2 separate regions of the Homo sapiens genome follow, and region 1 is linked to region 2. The links come from fine-mapping of genetic effects on plasma protein levels. A gene starts in region 2. The other region holds a variant in brackets. All regions are shown on one strand. Distances are from middle to middle.

The links. PIP is the chance, under the fine-mapping model, that this variant and not a neighbour inherited with it causes the effect. The UK Biobank Pharma Proteomics Project read protein levels with antibody pairs (Olink). The fine-mapping took linkage between variants from a reference panel, not from the people measured, so its PIPs are less certain.
Region 1: its variant is fine-mapped to the plasma level of the IL34 protein (UK Biobank, PIP above 0.99). The variant lies in the coding sequence of IL34. If it changes the protein, the assay may bind it differently, which can mimic a change of level.

Annotation. Positions count from the first base shown.
Region 1 is chr16:70,651,950-70,660,499 of GRCh38, forward strand. IL34 (interleukin 34) reads left to right here. Exons shown (of 6, transcript NM_001393494.1): 2 at 2,589-2,722; 3 at 4,653-4,730; 4 at 5,011-5,172; 5 at 7,669-7,804; 6 at 8,048-8,550. The coding sequence ends at 8,238. Among named protein-coding and RNA genes, the nearest start is that of IL34, 9.7 kb to the left of the region's middle. The variant G/C (reference allele first, on the strand shown) is at 5,137.
Region 2 is chr16:70,641,285-70,651,159 of GRCh38, forward strand. IL34 (interleukin 34) reads left to right here and starts at 5,275. Exons shown (of 6, transcript NM_001393494.1): 1 at 5,275-5,691. The coding sequence starts at 5,664. RefSeq lists an enhancer at 8,507-9,007.

The sequences.
Region 1 (8,550 bases), 10 kb after region 2:
CCCGTCTGTACTAAAAATACAAAAAAATTTAGCTGGATGTGGTGGCGCACACCTTGTAATCCCAGCTACTCGGGAGGCTGAGGCAGGAGAATGGCATGAGCCCAGGAAGCGGAGGTTGCAGTGAGCCAAGATTGCGCCACGGCACTCCAGCCTGGGTGACAGAGCGGGACTCCGTCTCAAAAAAAAAATAAATAAAAATAAAAATAAATGTCCTGCAAGGCCAAGGCCAGGTGTGGTGGCTCATGCCTGTAATCCCAGCACTTTTGGAGGCCAAGGTGGGAGCATCACTTGAGCATAGGAGTTCAAAACCAGCCTGGGCAAAACAGCAAGACCTCCTCTCTACAAAAAATTAAAAAAAAAATTAGCTGGGTGTGGTGGTGGCACCTGTAGTACCAGTTACTGGGAGGCTGAGGCAGGAGGATTGCTTGAACCCAGGAGTTTGAGATTGCAGTGAACAATGATGGTGCCACTGCACCTGTCTGCCTGGGCGACAGAGCAAGACCCTATTTGAAAAGAAAAACATGAAAAAATCTCCCATAGAGATTTGGTAGTCATGCTATGAACACAGATAGTGTTGAGTCATGCTGTTTTTAAGCTTCACTAAGCATATCTAATTGTTCTCATAGCACAGCCACATCTTTGACAATGTGATTTTTATTGGCTACATGCATTATTATGGAACGTCTAGGCCATTTCCAGATTTTCACTGTTATAAAATAAATGCTGCTCTGTACATCTTTGTTCATAATTTATTGGTTATATCTTTTTTGCTTTTCTTCCAATTTATTCCTAGAAGTGTATTTACTGGGTGAAAGAGTATAGACATTTTTAAGGCTTAGTGGTTTGAAGGGTGCGGATACTACTAAATCGATTAATAACAGAAATTGCTAAATTGCTTTCCAGGACAGCACTTGTCTCACTACTTGGCCAACATCAAGTAGTAATTGTTAAAACGAAATGAGCTGGGTGTATGACCGGGCATGGTGGCTCGTGCCTGTAAATCCAGCACTTTGGGAGGCAGAGGCAGGGAGATCAACTTGAGGTCAGGAGTTTGAGAACAGCCTGGCCAACATGGTGAAACCCCATCTCTACTAAAAATACAAAATATTGGCCGGGTGTAGTAGCCCCTGCTTGTAATCCCAGCTACTTGGGAGGCTGAGGCCTGAGGCACGAGAATTGCTTGAGCCTGGGAGGTGGAGGTTACGGTGAGCTGAGATTGTGCCACTGTACTCTAGCCTGGGTGACAGAGAAAGATTCTGTCTAAAAAAGAAAAAGCTGGGAAGCTGGGTGTAGTGGCACATGCCTCTCATCCCAGCTACTCAGGAGGCCACGATGGAAGGACCGCTTGACACTAGGAGTTTCAGACAAGCCTGGGCAACATAGCAAAACCCTGTCTCAAAAAAAAAAAAAAAAAGCCCCAACAACCCAAAACCACAAACACAAAAACTTTTTCATTTGAATAAAATGGGCCAGGCACAGTGGCTCACACCTATAATCCCAGCACTTTGGGAGGCTGAGGCAGGAGAATTGCTTGAGCTCAGGAGTTCGAGGCAAGTCTGGCCAACATGGCGATACCAGGTCTCTACAAAAAATACAAAAATTAGCAGGCGTAGTAGCATGCAACTGTAGTCCTAGCTACTCTGGAGGCTGAGGCAGAAGGATCGCTTGAGTCTGGGAGTTCTAGGATGCAATGAGCCATGATCCCACTACTGCACTCCAGCCAGGGTGACCAAAAAAAAGAAAAAGAAAAATTATATCTGATTGTTTTAATGTGAATTTATTTATCTAGTTAGTGAGTCTGATATTTTGGGTAGTTGCTGGCCTACTTCTGTTTTATTCTTTCTGCTCTGATGGACTTAACCTTTATTCATATTTGTTGCGAATTCTCTCCTTTTTTTCTGTTCAGTCACATGGAAATCGTATAGGCTGTTTTTGGAGTCACAGTGACCCCCAGTGGCAAAGGATGGTAATGTTTCAGCGGCTCGTTTGTTGCAGGAAGAGAGGCAGCCAAGTATGAGATCTGCTTAACGTCCTAGAATGACCAGACTGGAAGGCGCTACAGACCCGCTGGCATAGTTAGCTGGGAGGGACACTAAGATCAGATAGAGCAGGAAGGAAAGTGGTGTGGGGCGTGGGTGACTGAAGAGTCATTTTATCAAGTTGAAACCAGAATCCAGGATGATTCGATCTCCTGAATGCCGGGCTGGAAAACCCAGCAACGAGCTTTGAAAACATATCACCCGGACACCAGGGGCAGAGGCTGTTCTGGGCGGGAGGTTGTGCCTGCCCCACGGAGCGACAGAAGCGGGGAGACCAGACGTCGACCCTGAGGCGTGCCTCCTGGGGGGCTCCAGTGGCCGGCATGGGGTGGGTGTGGACTCTCTGCACTGCTAGTGCCTGCCTGACCTTGCTGTTCTGGAGCCAGACCCCAGGGAAAGCATTCCAGATCCCGTGCCCCCCACCACACCTTTCCCATTGGTGCTTGTCTCCTATGCAAATGGATGATGGTTGTGCTCGGCTTTGCGTGTTGTGGACGGCGTGGATGAGATGGAGGGTGCTCATGTGCTCTTGTCGGGTGTGGTCCACAGATCTTGGGATCTTCCTTGGCGTGGCCTTGGGGAATGAGCCTTTGGAGATGTGGCCCTTGACGCAGAATGAGGAGTGCACTGTCACGGGTTTTCTGCGGGACAAGCTGCAGTACAGGAGCCGACTTCAGTACATGGTAACCACGTGGGCACCAGCTGTGTCCCTGTCCCCGCGTCCCGGGGTTCACCTGGCATAGGCCTCTGGACATTCAGAGCCCTTCTTAGGACCTGTGTCAGCCCTGAGCCGACCATGGCCTGTTTCTCTGCCTTTCTCCGAAACCTACCCATGCACCTGGTCTGCACTTACTGACCCTCCTCCTGCCATCTCCTGGGGCCTCCACCCCTCCTCCTCGATCTCACTTTAATCCCACCTCCATGATGGCAGTCACCATATGACTCAGGAATGGACACCTGGAGCTCTTTGACAAACCCCAGGCACTTATTAGCCAGGGAGCTAAAGACCTAGAAATCGGAATATTTGGTTCTTTTTGCAGAGTGGAGATGTCTGTGTGGCTCTATGTATCTTTTTTTTTTTTTGAGACGGAGTCTTGGTCTGTCACCAGGCTGGAGTGCAGTGGCTCAATCTTGGCTCACTGCAACCTCCACCTCCCCGGTTCCAGTGATTCTCCTGCCTCAGCCTCCCGAGTAGCTGGGACTACAGGTGCGCGCCACCATGCCCAGCTAATTTTTGCAATTTTAGTAGAGACGGGGTTTCACCATGTTAGTCAGGATGGTCTCCATCTCTTGACCTCGTGATCCGCCTGCCTCAGCCTCCCAAAGTGCTGGGATTACAGGCGTGAGCCACTGCGCCCGGCCCTTTTTTTTTCTTTTTAATTTTTTAACTTTTCCTAAAAATCCTTTTCTTTTCTTTTGAGACAGGGTCTTGCTCTGTTGCCCAGGCTGGAGTGCAGTGGATAATTTCAGCTCACTGCAACCTCCACCTCCAAGGCTCAAATGATCCTCCCACCTCAGCCTCCCAAGTAGCTGGGACTACAGGCATGCACCACCATGCCCAGCTAATTAAAACTTTTTTTTTGAGTAGAGACAGGGGTTCACCATGTTGCCCAGGGTGGTCTTGAACTCCTGGGCTCAAGCAATATGCCCACCTTGGCCTCCCAAAGTGCTGGGATTATAGGTGTGAGCCACCATGCCTGACCAATGTATCTTTTTAAATTAATTAATTTAATTTTTAGAGACAGGGTGTCACTCTGTTGTCCAGGCTGAAGTGTAGTGGCGGGATCATAGCTCAGTGTAAACTTAAACTCCTGTGCTCAAGTGACTGTCTCTCCTCAGCCTCCCAAGGTGCTGGGATTACAGGCGTGAGCCACTGCACCTGGCTTGTGTCTTTTTTATTTTAACAGCTTTACTGAGATATAATTTACATATTTATATATAAAAGACATAATTTACTCATTTAAAGTGCACAACTCAAAGAGTTTTTAGTTCACAGAGTTGTGCAACCATCACCATCATAGGTTTTAGAACATTCTCACCCACAAAATAACATGTTTTTCTTGAAGTAACGTGTCCTCACTCTTGAGCCTGAAATTTCTGCCTTAACAGGAACTGTGTATTTTGTTTCACCCACCCTGAGTCCCAGAGGAAAGTGAAGTGTTTTTATCCCAGCTGGGAGCCAGGCACACCTCTCTGCACAGGACCACCTCTGCCGTCAAAGGTCTGGGCCCTGAGTTCTCTCCTCCTACATCAAAATTCATCTGGAGGCCGGGCATGGTGGCTCATACCTATAACCCCAGCACTTTGAGGGGCTTGAGCCCGGGATTCAAGACCAGCCTGGGCAACAAGAAGAAACCCCATCTCTACAAAAAATAAAAAAATCATCTGGGCGTGGTGGCACACACCTGTAGTCCCACCTACTTGGGAGGCTGAGGTGGAAGGATTGCTTGAGCCTGGGAGGTCAAGGCTTCCGTGAGCCATGATGCTGCCCCTGCACTCCATACTGGGTGACAGAGTGAGACTAACTGTTAAAAAAAACATCATTTGGGAGGTTGGGGAGCCTGCTGGTCATTTCTACTTCTGGCCTCATAGTTTGTTCTTGTGCCTCTCCAGAAACACTACTTCCCCATCAACTACAAGATCAGTGTGCCTTACGAGGGGGTGTTCAGAATCGCCAACGTCACCAGGCTGGTGAGAATCCCTTCCTGGGCTGGGGGGACCCTGCCTCCTGCGACATCCGGTGGGCCCCAGCCTCAGAGGCGCGCTGGGACTGGCAGGTGGTGCTGCTGGCCTGGGGCCTCTCCTCAGCCCCGAGAGCAGGCTGGCCCTTGGCCCAGGCACATGTTTGTCCACTGTCCACAGCGGACGGCCCGCGTCTGCTCCCTATGCAGGGGCAAGTCCCTGGTGAGGGAGTGGTCAGAGCCCAGAGGCCCATGTCTCCCGAGTTGCAGTGACTTCCCTGTTTCCGCAGCAGAGGGCCCAGGTGAGCGAGCGGGAGCTGCGGTATCTGTGGGTCTTGGTGAGCCTCAGTGCCACTGAGTCGGTGCAGGACGTGCTGCTCGAGGGCCACCCATCCTGGAAGTACCTGCAGGAGGTG[G/C]AGACGCTGCTGCTGAATGTCCAGCAGGGCCTCACGGTGAGTTGTGTGGAGGAGTGGCAGGTGGGGTGTGTGTGTGTGCACACGTGTGTACATGTGTGTGAGGTGTGGCCAAAGGCTAGTGAGGGAAAGGGTGAATACACGGAAAGATGGGCACAAGCAGAGGGACGTGGGAGAAGTGGGGGAGGGGTGCAGGAAAAGAGGCCTGTGGAAGGAAGAGGCAGCCGTGGTGGTCATGAGAGCCGGGCTCGGGGTGCAGGCGATGCCTCTGAGACTCTGTTCTAGGCTCTGCCTCTCTCCCTCTGGATCCTGGGCAAGTCATCGTACCCTCTTTGTTTCTGCAACACGAGGGTCCTGGAGGTGGGGTAGGGGGAGAGGGGAAGAATGGATGGAGCACAGGGAATGTTTAGGGCAGTAAAACATGCTGCAGGCCGGGCGCGGCGGCTCATGCCTGTAATCCCAGCACTTTGGGAGGCCGAGGTCAGGAGTTTGAGACCAGCCTGGCCAAATGGTGAAACCCCGTCTCTACTAAAAATACAAAAATAAGCCAGTCCTGGTGGTGGGCACCTGTTATCCCAGCTACTCAGGAGGCTGAGGCAGGAGAATCGCTTGAACCTGGGAGGCAGAGGTTGCAGTGAGCTGAGATTGCACCATTGCACTCCAGCTTGGGCAACAAGAACGAAAAACTCCATCTCAAAACAAAAAACAAAAAACTATGCTGTATAATGCATTCATGTTGTATACATGACATCATGCATTTGTCACAACCCACAGAACTGTACAACAGAGAGTGTGAGCCCTAATGTAAATTATGGACTTTAGTTAATTAAAAAAAGAGGTCCCCCATCCCTGACCCGCTCAGAGAAATTGATCTGAGGCCTCAGGGATATTATCCTCTAAAATGCCTGAGTTGTAGTAAAAAAGGAAGGTGGCGAGATGACCCATGCAGGCCGTGTGTGCGGTGGGACCTCTCCCCGTCTCCACCAGACCTCCTCAGGACTCTGGTGCACACCTGTCCCTGGGATCCACCTGCTGCCCTGCCCAGCCAGCTGCTGACAAGGCCCAGCTTGTCGGGAGAACATCCCAGGCCAACTGTGAGCTTCCGACGGTGAAAGGGCTTAGGGACTAGCACCTGTTTTGCAGCTGCCTGGAGCTTTCCTGGAACCAGACTGGTGGGGAGGCTGTCAATTCCTACAAAGTCAGGAGACTCCTTGATCTGCTTGGTGGCTCTTTTTCCTGTTTATTTCATTTTATTTCTTTTTTATTGTTTTAGAGATGGGGGTCTCGCTATGTTGCCCAGGCTGGTCTTGAACCCCTGGCCTCAAGTGATCTTTCTGCCTCAGCCTCCCAAAGTCCTGGGATTACAGGACTGGGATTACATCCTGCCTGGCCTCTGTGGTGGCTTTTTTTGTTTTTTTGAGGCGGAGTCTCACTGTGTCGCCCAGGTGCATTGCAGTGGGGCAATCTTGGCTCACTGCAACCTCCGTCTCCCAGGTTCAAGCAATTCTCCTGCCTCAGCCTCCCAAGTAGCTGGGATTATAGATGCCTGCCACCACACCTGTATTTTTAGTAGAGACGGGGTTCTGCCATGTTGGTTAGGCTGGTCTTGAACTCCTGGCCTCAAGTGATATGCCTCCCTCAGCCTCCCAAAGTGCTGGGATTACAGGTTGAACCACCATTCCTGGCCGTCTCAGTCTTTTCATGGCCTTCTGCCCTGTTTCCATGTCTGTCACCTTTCTCTTACAAGGACATCAGGCATTGGATTTAGGGCCTACCTGAAATCCAGGATGATGTCCTTCTAAGATCCTGAACTTAATTACCTCTGCAAAGAACCTATTTCCAAATAGGGTCACATTCACGGGTACCAAGGGGTAGGACCAAGACAGCTTTTTGGGGGAGGAGAGGGACAATTTGGCCCAGGACATGTTGCCTTGTTGTCACCCCCTTCCAGAAGATCACCCCCCACGTTTCCCATGATGCTTTCTACAGTGGCCCTGACCTCCTGTTCAGGGACTTGATTCCCTTGGTGCCACGGTGCACCCCACATGACCCTGTTGTTGCATATCGTGGAGAGAAAGCACCCCAGCTTGAAGCTGGACACCCTGCCCTGTGTATGTGACTTAAGCCTCAGTGTCTCTGTGAGGACCTTCTCTTGTTCCTTGGAGTTGATGGAGATGTCTGCTTCTTGAGGGACAGTTTTCCCCAGGTCAGGGGGTCCTCACGCAGTGGTGGGTGGCCGTGCCTGGGTGCAGTTTGCCCCACTTTCCTCACTGTCCTGGTCTACGCCCTTTACTCATTTTTCAAGGATGGAAAAGCGAAGCCTCTGAGTTGTACATGGGTGAGTGGTGGCATCTGGGACCCTCCCCATGCCCACAGGAAGAAGATGGTGAGAAATAGCTATCCAGGCTCATGGTCACAGGAAGTCTGGTCCTTCTTCCGGGGTTTGGGCAGCTCCAGGTGACTGGACAGCCCTCACGGCTCTCCTGGGGTGCGGCCCCATCTCGCCACCGCTCCTGACTGTTTCCTCCTTTCCAGGATGTGGAGGTCAGCCCCAAGGTGGAATCCGTGTTGTCCCTCTTGAATGCCCCAGGGCCAAACCTGAAGCTGGTGCGGCCCAAAGCCCTGCTGGACAACTGCTTCCGGGTCATGGAGCTGCTGTACTGCTCCTGCTGTAAGGAGCTCTCAGGGGATGGCGCCTGGGGGTGGGAGGCCAGGCATCTGGGCCCACCCAGGCCAGCTGGCAGAGCTGGCGTCCTCCCGGGCATATCCTCTGCTCCCCGGGGCTACAAGCCATTTCTGGAAGCCAGGATGGGCCCTGGGTAGAGTGGGGGACAAGCACATGCGGCTTGGCTTAGTGGGGAGGGTGGTCTTGAACACTGCTGCAGTCTTTTTTTTTTTCCCCTATCTCTTGCAGGTAAACAAAGCTCCGTCCTAAACTGGCAGGACTGTGAGGTGCCAAGTCCTCAGTCTTGCAGCCCAGAGCCCTCATTGCAGTATGCGGCCACCCAGCTGTACCCTCCGCCCCCGTGGTCCCCCAGCTCCCCGCCTCACTCCACGGGCTCGGTGAGGCCGGTCAGGGCACAGGGCGAGGGCCTCTTGCCCTGAGCACCCTGGATGGTGACTGCGGATAGGGGCAGCCAGACCAGCTCCCACAGGAGTTCAACTGGGTCTGAGACTTCAAGGGGTGGTGGTGGGAGCCCCCCTTGGGAGAGGACCCCTGGGAAGGGTGTTTTTCCTTTGAGGGGGATTCTGTGCCACAGCAGGGCTCAGCTTCCTGCCTTCCATAGCTGTCATGGCCTCACCTGGAGCGGAGGGGACCTGGGGACCTGAAGGTGGATGGGGACACAGCTCCTGGCTTCTCCTGGTGCTGCCCTCACTGTCCCCCCGCCTAAAGGGGGTACTGAGCCTCCTGTGGCC
Region 2 (9,875 bases):
AGAAAATGTTATGCCTACACAAAAACTTGCACATGGATTTTCATAGCCATATTATTCATAATGGCCAAAAGGTGGAAACAGCCCAAAAGTTCACCAACCAAGGGCACTGTATACTTAAAGAAGGTGAGCTTCACTGTCCATCAATTACACCTCAATAAGCCTGACTTTAAAGTAACTTCAATGGATTGAAATACATAAATTAAAAAAATTCTTTCCCTCCCTCTCTCCCTCCCTCCCTTCCTCCCTCCCTCCCTTCCTTCCTTCCTTCCTGCCTTTCTTTCTTTTTTTTTTTACTTTTTGAGATGGAATCTCACTCTGTTGCCAAGGCTGGAGTGCAGTGGCATGATCATGGCCTGTTGCTGCCTCCACCTCCCCAGATTCAAGTGATCTTCCCACCTTAGCCTCCCTAGCAGCTGGGAGTACAGGTGCATGCCTCCTTGTCCGGCTAATTTTTGTATTTTTTGTAGAGACAGGGTTTTGCTGTGTTGCCCAGGCTGGTCTTGAACTCCTGGGCTCAAGCAATCCACCCCCCCGCAACCTCCCAAAGTGTTGGAATTATAGGCATGAGCCACTGCGCCTGGCCAAAATTAATAATTTCAAAATGACACTAAAAATCCTCATTAGTTATTTTGGAGGAAGCCAGAAAACAATACAATCTGAAATGGACAAAGAAAATGTGGGATATTCATGCAAGGGAGCATTATTTGACAATAAAAAGAGTAAAGTACGGATACATGCTGTGTCTTAGTTTACCTGGCCTTCCATAAAAAAATACCATAGACCGGGTGGCTTAAACAACAGAAATCTGTTTTCTCACCATTCTCTGGGCTGGAACTTTGAGATCAGGGCACCAGCATGATTGATTTCCGGTGAGGGCTCTTCCCTTGGGTTGCAGATGGCCACCTTCTCACTATGTACTCACATGACCAGTTCTTTGTGTGAGTATGGGAAGAGACAGAGAGAGAGAGAGACAAAGACAGAGACAGAGAGAGTGAGCGTACTCTGATGTCTTTTTTTTTTTTTTTTTTTTTGAGACGGAGTCTCACTCTGTTACCCAGGCTGGAGTGCAGTGGCATGATCTCGGCTCACTGCAAACTTTGCCCTCTGAGTTCAAGCGATTCTCCTGCCTCAGCCTCCTGAGTAGCTGGGATTACAGGCACCTGCCACTGCGCCCGCCTAATTTTTGTATTTTTAGTGGAGACGGTGTTTCACCATGTTGGTCAGGCTTGTCTTGAACTCCTTACCTTGTGATCCTCCCGCCTTGGGCTCCCAAAGTGCTGGGATTACAGGCGTGAGCCACTGAGCCCGGCCTGATTTCTTTTCTTATAAAGGCATTATCCCACCATAAGGACCCCATCCTTGTGACCTCATCCAAACCTAATTATCTCCCAAGGCCTCATCTCCAGGAACCACCACATTAGGGGTTACAACTTCAACACATGTATTTTGGAGAGACACAAACATTCAGTTCATAACATGCTACAAAATGAATGAACCCTGAAAACATGCTAAGTGAAAGAAGCCAGACATGAAAGGTCCCGTATTGCATAATCAATCCCATTTATATGAAATGTCCAGAATAGGCAAATCCATAGAGACAGAAAGAATATTAGTGGCTGCCAGGGGCTGGGAGGAAGAGGGAATAGGGGGTGACTGCTAATGAGTTCAGAGTTTATTTTGGGGGTGATGAAAATGTTCTGTAATTAAATAATGGTGACTGTTGCACAACTTAGTACACTAAAAACCCACAAAGTTGTACACTTTATTATTTATTTTTATTTATTTTTATTTATTTTTGAGACGGATCTCACTCTGTCACCCAGGCTGGAGTGCAGTGGGACTACCTCGGCTCACTGCAACCTCTGCCTCCCGGGTTCAAGTGATTCTCCTGCCTCAGCCTCCTGAGTAGCTGGGATTACAGGTGCGCACCACCGTGCCTGGCTAATCTTTTGTATGTTTAGTAGAGATAGGGTTTTGCCATATTGGCCAGGCTGGTCTCGAATCCCTGACCTCAGGTGATCCACCTGCCTTGGCCTCCCAAACTGCAGGGATGACAGGAGTGAGCCACTGCACCTGGCTGTTGCACACTTTATTTATTTATTTTGAGACAGGGTCTTGCTTTGTCACCCATGCTGGAGTGCAGTGGCGTGATCATGGTTCACTGCAGCCTTGACCTCCCTGGCTCAAGTGATCCTCCCATCTCAGCCTCCCAAGTAGCTGGGACCACAGGCCCGTGCCACTACACCCACCTAATTAAAAAAATTTTTGTTGGTAGATACGGGTTCTCACTATGTTGCCCGGGCTGGTCTCAAAGCCCTGGGCTGAAGCGATCCCCCGGCCTTGGCCTCCCAAGGTGCTGGGATTACAAGTGTGAGCCATCACACGCAGCCTGTACACTTTAAAATGGTAAATTTTATGGCATGCAAATTATATATTGATTTTTAAAAAGAAAAAAGACTTAAGATGCACATCAGAGATTTAAAAAATAACCAGGGAAAATTGAACGTGGATTCTATATGAAATCATATTAAAGAGTTATTAATTTGAGGGTTGTGTGATGACAATATTGTGATTATATATTTTAAAAATCCCTACATGCTGGTGAAATGGCATGTTTGAGATTTGCTTTAAAATATTCCTGGAAAAAAAAATTGGGGGATGAGTGAAGCTGGAATGACAGAAGAGTGATCATTTTTTTCTTTTGTTTTGAGACAGAATCTCGCTCTGTTGCCCCGACTGGAGGGCAGTGGAGCAATCTTGGCTCACTGCAACCTCCGCCTCCTGGGTTCCAGTGATTCTGCTGCCTCAGCCTCCTGAGTAGCTGGGATTACAGGCATGCACCACCACACCTGGCTAATTTTTGTATTTTTAGTAGAGACAGGGTTTCACCATGTTGGCCAGGCTGGTCTCAAAGTCCTGACCTTTTATGGACAACTCTGTGGAAATAACTTTTTTGTTTTTCTATTGGTATTTGAAGTTGTTTTTTCCCCTTCTCCTTGGAGTTTATTCTGCCTCAACTGATTCACCCGCCTCGGCCTCCCAAAGTGCTGGGATTACAGGTGTGAGACACTGCACCCAGCCAGATTGACAATTTTTGAATCTGAGTAACTGCTATATGGGGGTCTGTTATACTATTCTACCTTGTTTCAGTTTGTTTAGACAACTTCCACTATAAAGGAATGAATTTTTTGGGTAGATGGAAATGTTTTGTATCTTGATTATTATAGTAATTACACAGCTCTATAAATGTGCTAAAAACTTTTAGAAATGTATACTGAAAAGGGTAAAATGTAGTATATGTAAATTAGCCCTCAATAAACCTGAAAAAAATCCCCAAACTAATGACAACTAAATGTTCTAGATACGTTAGTGTTTGTAGTGATGCTGTAACAGCAGGGGAATTGCCAGGGTGAGGAGGAGGAGGAGGGGGAGGAGGAGGGGGAGGGGGAAGAGGAAGAGGAGGAGGGAGGAGGGAGGAAAAGGAGGAGGGAGGAGGGAGGAAAAGGAGGAGGGAGGAGGAATGAAAAGGAGGAAGGGAGGAGGAAGGAGGAAGAGGAAGGAGGGAAGAGGAGGAAGAGGAGGAAGTAGGAAGAGGAAGGAGGTGGAAGAGGAAGGAGGAAGAGGAGGGAGGAGAAGGAGGAGGAAGGAGGAAGAGGAGGAAGGAGGAAGAGGAGGAGGAAGGAGGAAGAGAAAGGGAGTAGGAGGAAGGAGGAAGAAGAGGAAGAGGAGGAAGGAGGAGAAGGAAAAAGGAAGGAGGACGAGGAAGGAGGAAGAGAAGGAAGGAGAAAGGAAGAGGGAAGAGTAGGAAGGAGGAGGGGGAAAGAGGAGGAAGAAGAGGGAGGAAGGAGGAAGACGAGGAAGGAGGAGGAGGAAGAGAAGGAGGAAGAGGAAGGAGGAAAAGGAGGAAGGACAAGGAAAAGAGGAGCAGCAGCAGGCAGCGACTGGGGCTGAGATTCAGGGTGACTGCATAAGGGATTAACTTGAACAACCCGTGTTCTCTCTATAAGGCCCTGCCTGCCTGCTGGGCACCTCTTAGGGTAAGGGCCAGCATTCTTTGGTGACACCATGGATCACACAATGAAGAAGATGCCCAAGTCATACCTGCTCTCCCCCGATGGTGTCACTCTGTAGCCATTTTCCCCCACCAGAGGGGAGACAGGGAGGAGGCGAGGGGATGGAAGAGAACTAAATCAGAGACGGAATTCCAGCCTGATCTGCAGAGCAGACACAATGGTCCAGACCTTGCAGAGTCCAGAGGGGCAGATGGGAGGACCACGCACACACGCTGAGCCCTGTGTGGTTGTCGAATTTTGGGAGCAGCCACCAGCCCACAGGGTTTGAATTCCTGTCACACTTCTTACAAGCCGTATGACCTTGGACAAGTGTCTTAACCTTTCTGGGCCTCAGTTTCCTCATTGATAAACTGAGATTTTGCACTTCCATGAGATTGTTGTGAGAGATTCAGTGAATGTAAAGACCTTAGTCCTGGCCGGGTGCGGTGGCTCACGCCTGTAATCCCAGCACTTTGGGAGGCCAAGACAGCAGATCACTTGAGTCCAGGAGTTTGAGACTAGCCTGGCCAACATGGTGAAACCCCATCTCTACTAAAAATACAAAAATTAGCCAGGCATGGTAGTGCACATCTGTAATCCCAGCTACTTGGGAGGCTGAAGCAGGAGAATTGCTTGAACCCTGGAGGTGGAGGCTGCAGTGAGCCAAAATCACGCCACTGCACTACAGCCTGGATGACAGAGTCTGAGACTCCGTCTCAAAAAAATTTTTTTTTTCTTAATTTTTTTTTTATTAATAGAACTGAGGTCTTACTATGCTGACCAGGCTGGTCTCGAACTCCTGGGCTCACGCAATCCTCCCACCTTGGCCTCCCAAAGTGCTGGGATTACAAGCATGAGCCATTGCGTCCGGCTTGTTTTCGGAGTGGGAGCTCGTCTGCTTTTTTAACCTGTCCTTTAGCCTGAGTCATTCATGGACTCTACCATGGCTCTCGATGTGTGAACTCAAACCACCTGTTCATTCCTTGGTCCTGCTTTTGTTCAGGCCCCAGGCTGCCAGCTGGTGTCATCATAACTCACTCATGGGCCAGGGCCGTTCGGACATCCTGAAGTCATTTCTCACGTGAGCCGTGTCCAGCTGCCAGGGCCGGGTGGTCCTGTGCAGGCCGTGGGTGCGGTGTGCGCTGTGGCTGATGGCTGAGTGGCAGCGCTGCTCTTACATAATCAGTTTCTCTCCTCCTTTCTCTTCCTAGAGCCAGATTTCACACTGAGCAGCTGCAGTCGGAGAAATCAGAGAAAGCGTCACCCAGCCCCAGATTCCGAGGGGCCTGCCAGGGACTCTCTCCTCCTGCTCCTTGGAAAGGAAGACCCCGAAAGACCCCCAAGCCACCGGCTCAGACCTGCTTCTGGGCTGCCATGGGACTTGCGGCCACCGCCCCCCGGCTGTCCTCCACGCTGCCGGGCAGATAAGGGCAGCTGCTGCCCTTGGGGCACCTGCTCACTCCCGCAGCCCAGCCACTCCTCCAGGGCCAGCCCTTCCCTGACTGAGTGACCACCTCTGCTGCCCCGAGGCCATGTAGGCCGTGCTTAGGCCTCTGTGGACACACTGCTGGGGACGGCGCCTGAGCTCTCAGGGGGACGAGGAACACCACCATGCCCCGGGGCTTCACCTGGCTGCGCTGTGAGTACTGGGGGGTCCCTAGGGACCTGCATTGGGAGGCCTTGGCCTAGATCCAGGATCTGCCGTAACCATAGCAACCAGGGCATTCTTGCTGGTGAGAAGTTGCGATGCTTCCCAGCCGGACTGCAGACACCCTCTGAGATTCCCACGGCCGCCGTCTGCCCTGTCTGCCGCTCACTTCGGGCTCCGACGGGCAAGCTGGGTGGGCAGTTCTGGCTGGGTGGGCATGGTCCTCAGGGTGGTCTTAGGTCGGGGCAGGCACTGGGGGTAGGTGGCAGCATCTCACCTTTCCAGGCTTGTGGGTGTTGGGGAGCCCCGGGCGGGCAGCAGCGGCCCAGTCCTGGGTATGGCCGGTGGAGGGGGGCAGGGGCTGGTGAAAGTGTCTAGGGACCCAAGACCCACGGCAGAAGAGCAGCCAGATGCCTGGAGAAGGCAGCCTGTTCCCCTCCAACCCTCCCTCCATAACAGAACAGAATTAAAAAGCAGAAAGATAACACTGTTGGTAAAAAGAAAAATAAGTTGAAATGAGGACAGAAAGGAAAAAAAGGATCTGGAAGCCTCTTATGCCTGCTGGCTGGGAGGCCAGACCAAGATCCCCTCAGTCTCCAAGATCCAGTTCAATTGACTCAAATTCAACACATTTTTCCGGTGCCTCCCACGTGCCCACTGCAGAGTCACTGCCATGACAACAAGGACCTTGCTGTCTCGTGCCTCTGTCTCCAACGCCTGGCACAGGGTTGAGTGCTCAGGAACTGTTGGAGGTTTGGGGTATGAGCCTGCGAGGGATTGAAAGAAGAGTTGGGTCCACCCTGGCCCTTGTGGAAATATACAACAAAGGGTTGGGACATTAAGGATGGGTGGAAGGACCCAGCTGGACCCAATGTTCTGGAAACCCCTAGGTCATGAGAAGCAGGGGTGCAGCATGGGGGAGGGGCTACTGGAAATGGTCTAGAAGGTGGGGTGGTGGTCACACAGGTAGACCTGGGGTCATGAGGCCCATGTTCCAGGAAGAGGGGCCAGTGTGAGCAAAGGTTTGGCGGTGGGATGGTGAGGCCAGGCTGGGAGCTGGTTTGGACCCGGCTGGCTGAGGCCTTGAGAGCCAAGCAAAGTGTGCCTCCCTCCCCATAGCAGGCAGCCCTGGAGGATTTGAGAGCCCGGCGGGGGTGGAATCGTGATTGGGAGTTCCTCTGCTCTTGAAGATCAGTCTGGTGGTGTTTGTAGGAGTTACTGCTGTCACCGTCTGTGCAGGAGGGAATGAGGGTCATTCTGGAGGTGGAGGTGCGAATGAAAGGCAAGGGATGCTGGGCTGGTGGCTCACGCCCGTGATCCCAGCACTGTGGGAGGCCAAGGCAGGAGGACGGCTTGAGGCCAGGAGTTTGAAACCAGGCTGGGCAGCATAGCGAGACTCCATCTCTAAAAAAAGGAAAATTAGCCAGGTGTGGTGGCATACATCTGTAATCCCAGCTACTCAGGAGGCTGAGGTGGGAGGATCACTTGAGCCCAGGAGGTTGAGGCTGCAGTAGCAAGGATCGCATCACTGCACTGCAGCCTGGGCAACAGGGTGAGACCCTGTCTTTAAAAAAAAAAAAAAAAAAAAAAAGGAGAAAAGAAAAAGAGAGAAAGAAAAGCAAGGGAGAGGGGAAAAAGCTCCAGGAGGGGTGGGTCTTAGGACCAGGCAAAGACTGGCTGGGGGATGAGGGAGAGGGAGAGCAGCAGATTGAGGTGGGGGCTGGTGCCCAGGGGCTGGGGTGCTGAGGAAGTTGGGCTGCCATAACCAATTAGAAAGCTTCGGGTGGCTTAGAGCAACAGGAATGTGTCGTCTCACAGTTCTGGAGACCGGAAGTGTGAGATCAGGGTGCCTGCAGGGCTGCGTTCCCTCTAAAGGTGCCGAGAAGGAGCCTCCCTTGCCTCTTCCAGCTCCTGGTGGCTCCTGGCTTCCTTGGCTTGTGGCCTAGTCACTCAGATCTCCCTTTGTCTTTGCGTGGCCTTTCCCTTTGTGTGTCTCTATGTCCTCTCCTCTTCTTCCTAGGACACTAGTCACTGGATTTAGGGAACTGCCTAAATCCAGGATGGCCTAATCTTGACATCCTTCATTTAATAATGCCTGTAAGTGGCACAGGACAGGCGAGCCCCCAAGGGGGCTTAGCCTGCGAGGGTTCTTGGCTTTCCCTAGGAGAGAATTCAAGGCAAGCTGGTGGTAGAAGAAAACAGCTTTACTGAAGAGATGTTATAGCTCTGTGCCAGCTCCTGCAGAGCAGGGCTGTGCCAGAGGAAGCGTACTGAGGAGCAGCTCGGGGCCTTTTGCAGTCATATTTATACCCACCTTTAATTGCATGCAGATTAAGGGGCAGTTTATGCAGACATTTCTAGGGAAGGGGTAGTAACTTTTGGGACATTGGGTCATTGCTATGGAAAGCGGTGGTAACTCCCAGGCGTTGCCATGGCAATGGTAAACTGACATGGCACACTGCTGAGCATGTCTTTTGGAATGCTGCTTCTGCCCCGTCCACCCCTGTTTTCACTAGTCCTCAGTTTGGTCCAGTGTCAGGGCTCTGCCTCTGGAGTCGGTCCTACCTCCTACTTCACAAAGACCCCATTTCCAAACAAGGTCACACTCGGGTTCGGGTGAATGTGGATTTGGAGGAGATGCTATTTAACCCACTGCACAGGTTCAGATTTGGTCCCCGGGGCTGGGGGTGACAAGCCTCACTTGTCACTGCACATAGGGTCAACCCAGGGCCAGGGAACCAGGAAGGGAGTACCGTACTCACACAGATCTTTCTTAAGCCTCCTCTCTGTCTTGCAGGTTGTTTTATTATTTTATTTTTATTTTTATTTTTTGAGACGGAGTCTCACTCTGTCACCCAGGCTGGAGTGCTGCGGCACGATCTCAGCTCACTGCATCCTCTGCCTCTTGGGTTCAGATGATTCTTGTGTCTCAGCCTCCCGAGTAGCTGGGACTACAGGCACCTGCCACTGCGCCTGGCTAATTTTTGTATTTTTAGTAGCGATGGGGTTTCACCATGTTGGCCAGACTGGTCTTGAACTCCTGACCTCAGGTGATCCGCCCACCTCGGCCTTCCAAAGTGCTGGGATTACAGGTGTGAGCCTCCGTGCCCAGCCTGTGTTGTGGGTTCTTACCTCTGGGCTAAGACAAGGGCAGGGTGGGTCTCCTGACCAAGGTCAGGGGTGGCACTGGCTGTGGGGTTCCTGGTGTGCAGAGCATGTGGGGGACAGTGGCCTTGAGGTTGGGGCTGTGCTGTCCCTGCCTGGTCCCTGTTTGTTAACCTGTTTCTCTGGGTGGGTGGAGGCAGCAAAAAAAGAAACTTGCCCTTAGCAATGATGTTTGGGCTGCACTCAGAGGAAGGCTGCCCAGTTGGGGGAGAGGCAGATCATCTGTGGACAGGGTTTCCAGGGCAGCTGTGTGCCCACCGTGTCAGGCTGGGAGGCTCAGTGTCACTCCAAGGCACAGTCCCTGCCTTGAGGCCACAGCTGCCGGGTCCCCAGGGCCCCAGAACGGGACACAGAGAAGGGCAGGTGCTGTAGGGTTGGGAGGTGAAGTAGACGGCCAATGGTGATGGCCACACAGGAAAAAAGACCCAGTGTGGACAGAGGTACTGATTTTTTTAAAGAAAAGCTGAAATTTTGAATTGTTGTGTGAAATCCTTGTGGACCAGAGGTGGCTCTCGGGACACCAGCTTGCAACTGTTGCTCTAGGTCTGTGGTTCCAGACCCCCAGCCACAGCTTTACCTGGGACCTTGTTAGAAAGGTAGACTCTCTGCATCCTAGACTGGTTGAGCAGAGACTCTGGGGCAGGCAGGACAACCTGTGCCTTAACGAGCTCTGCAAGGGATGACAATGTCTGCTCCCATTTCTACTGCTTGAGGCGAATCCCCAAATGCACATGTGAAGTTCTCAGCACGCTGGGCTGTGCAGTGTTTAACTGCGTTATGGATTCACACACAGGCTCACGCCTGTAATCCCAGCACTTTGGGAAGCCGAGGTGAGTGGATCACGAGGTCAGGAGTTCAAGACCAGCCTGGCCAACCTGGTGAAACGCCGTCTCTACTAAAAATACAAAAAAAATTAGCCGGATGTGGTGGCGCGCACCTGTAATCCCAGGTCATGAGTGAATGGGGAAGGTGGTGCTGGAGACAGAGACCGATGGGGGCTGATGCAGAAA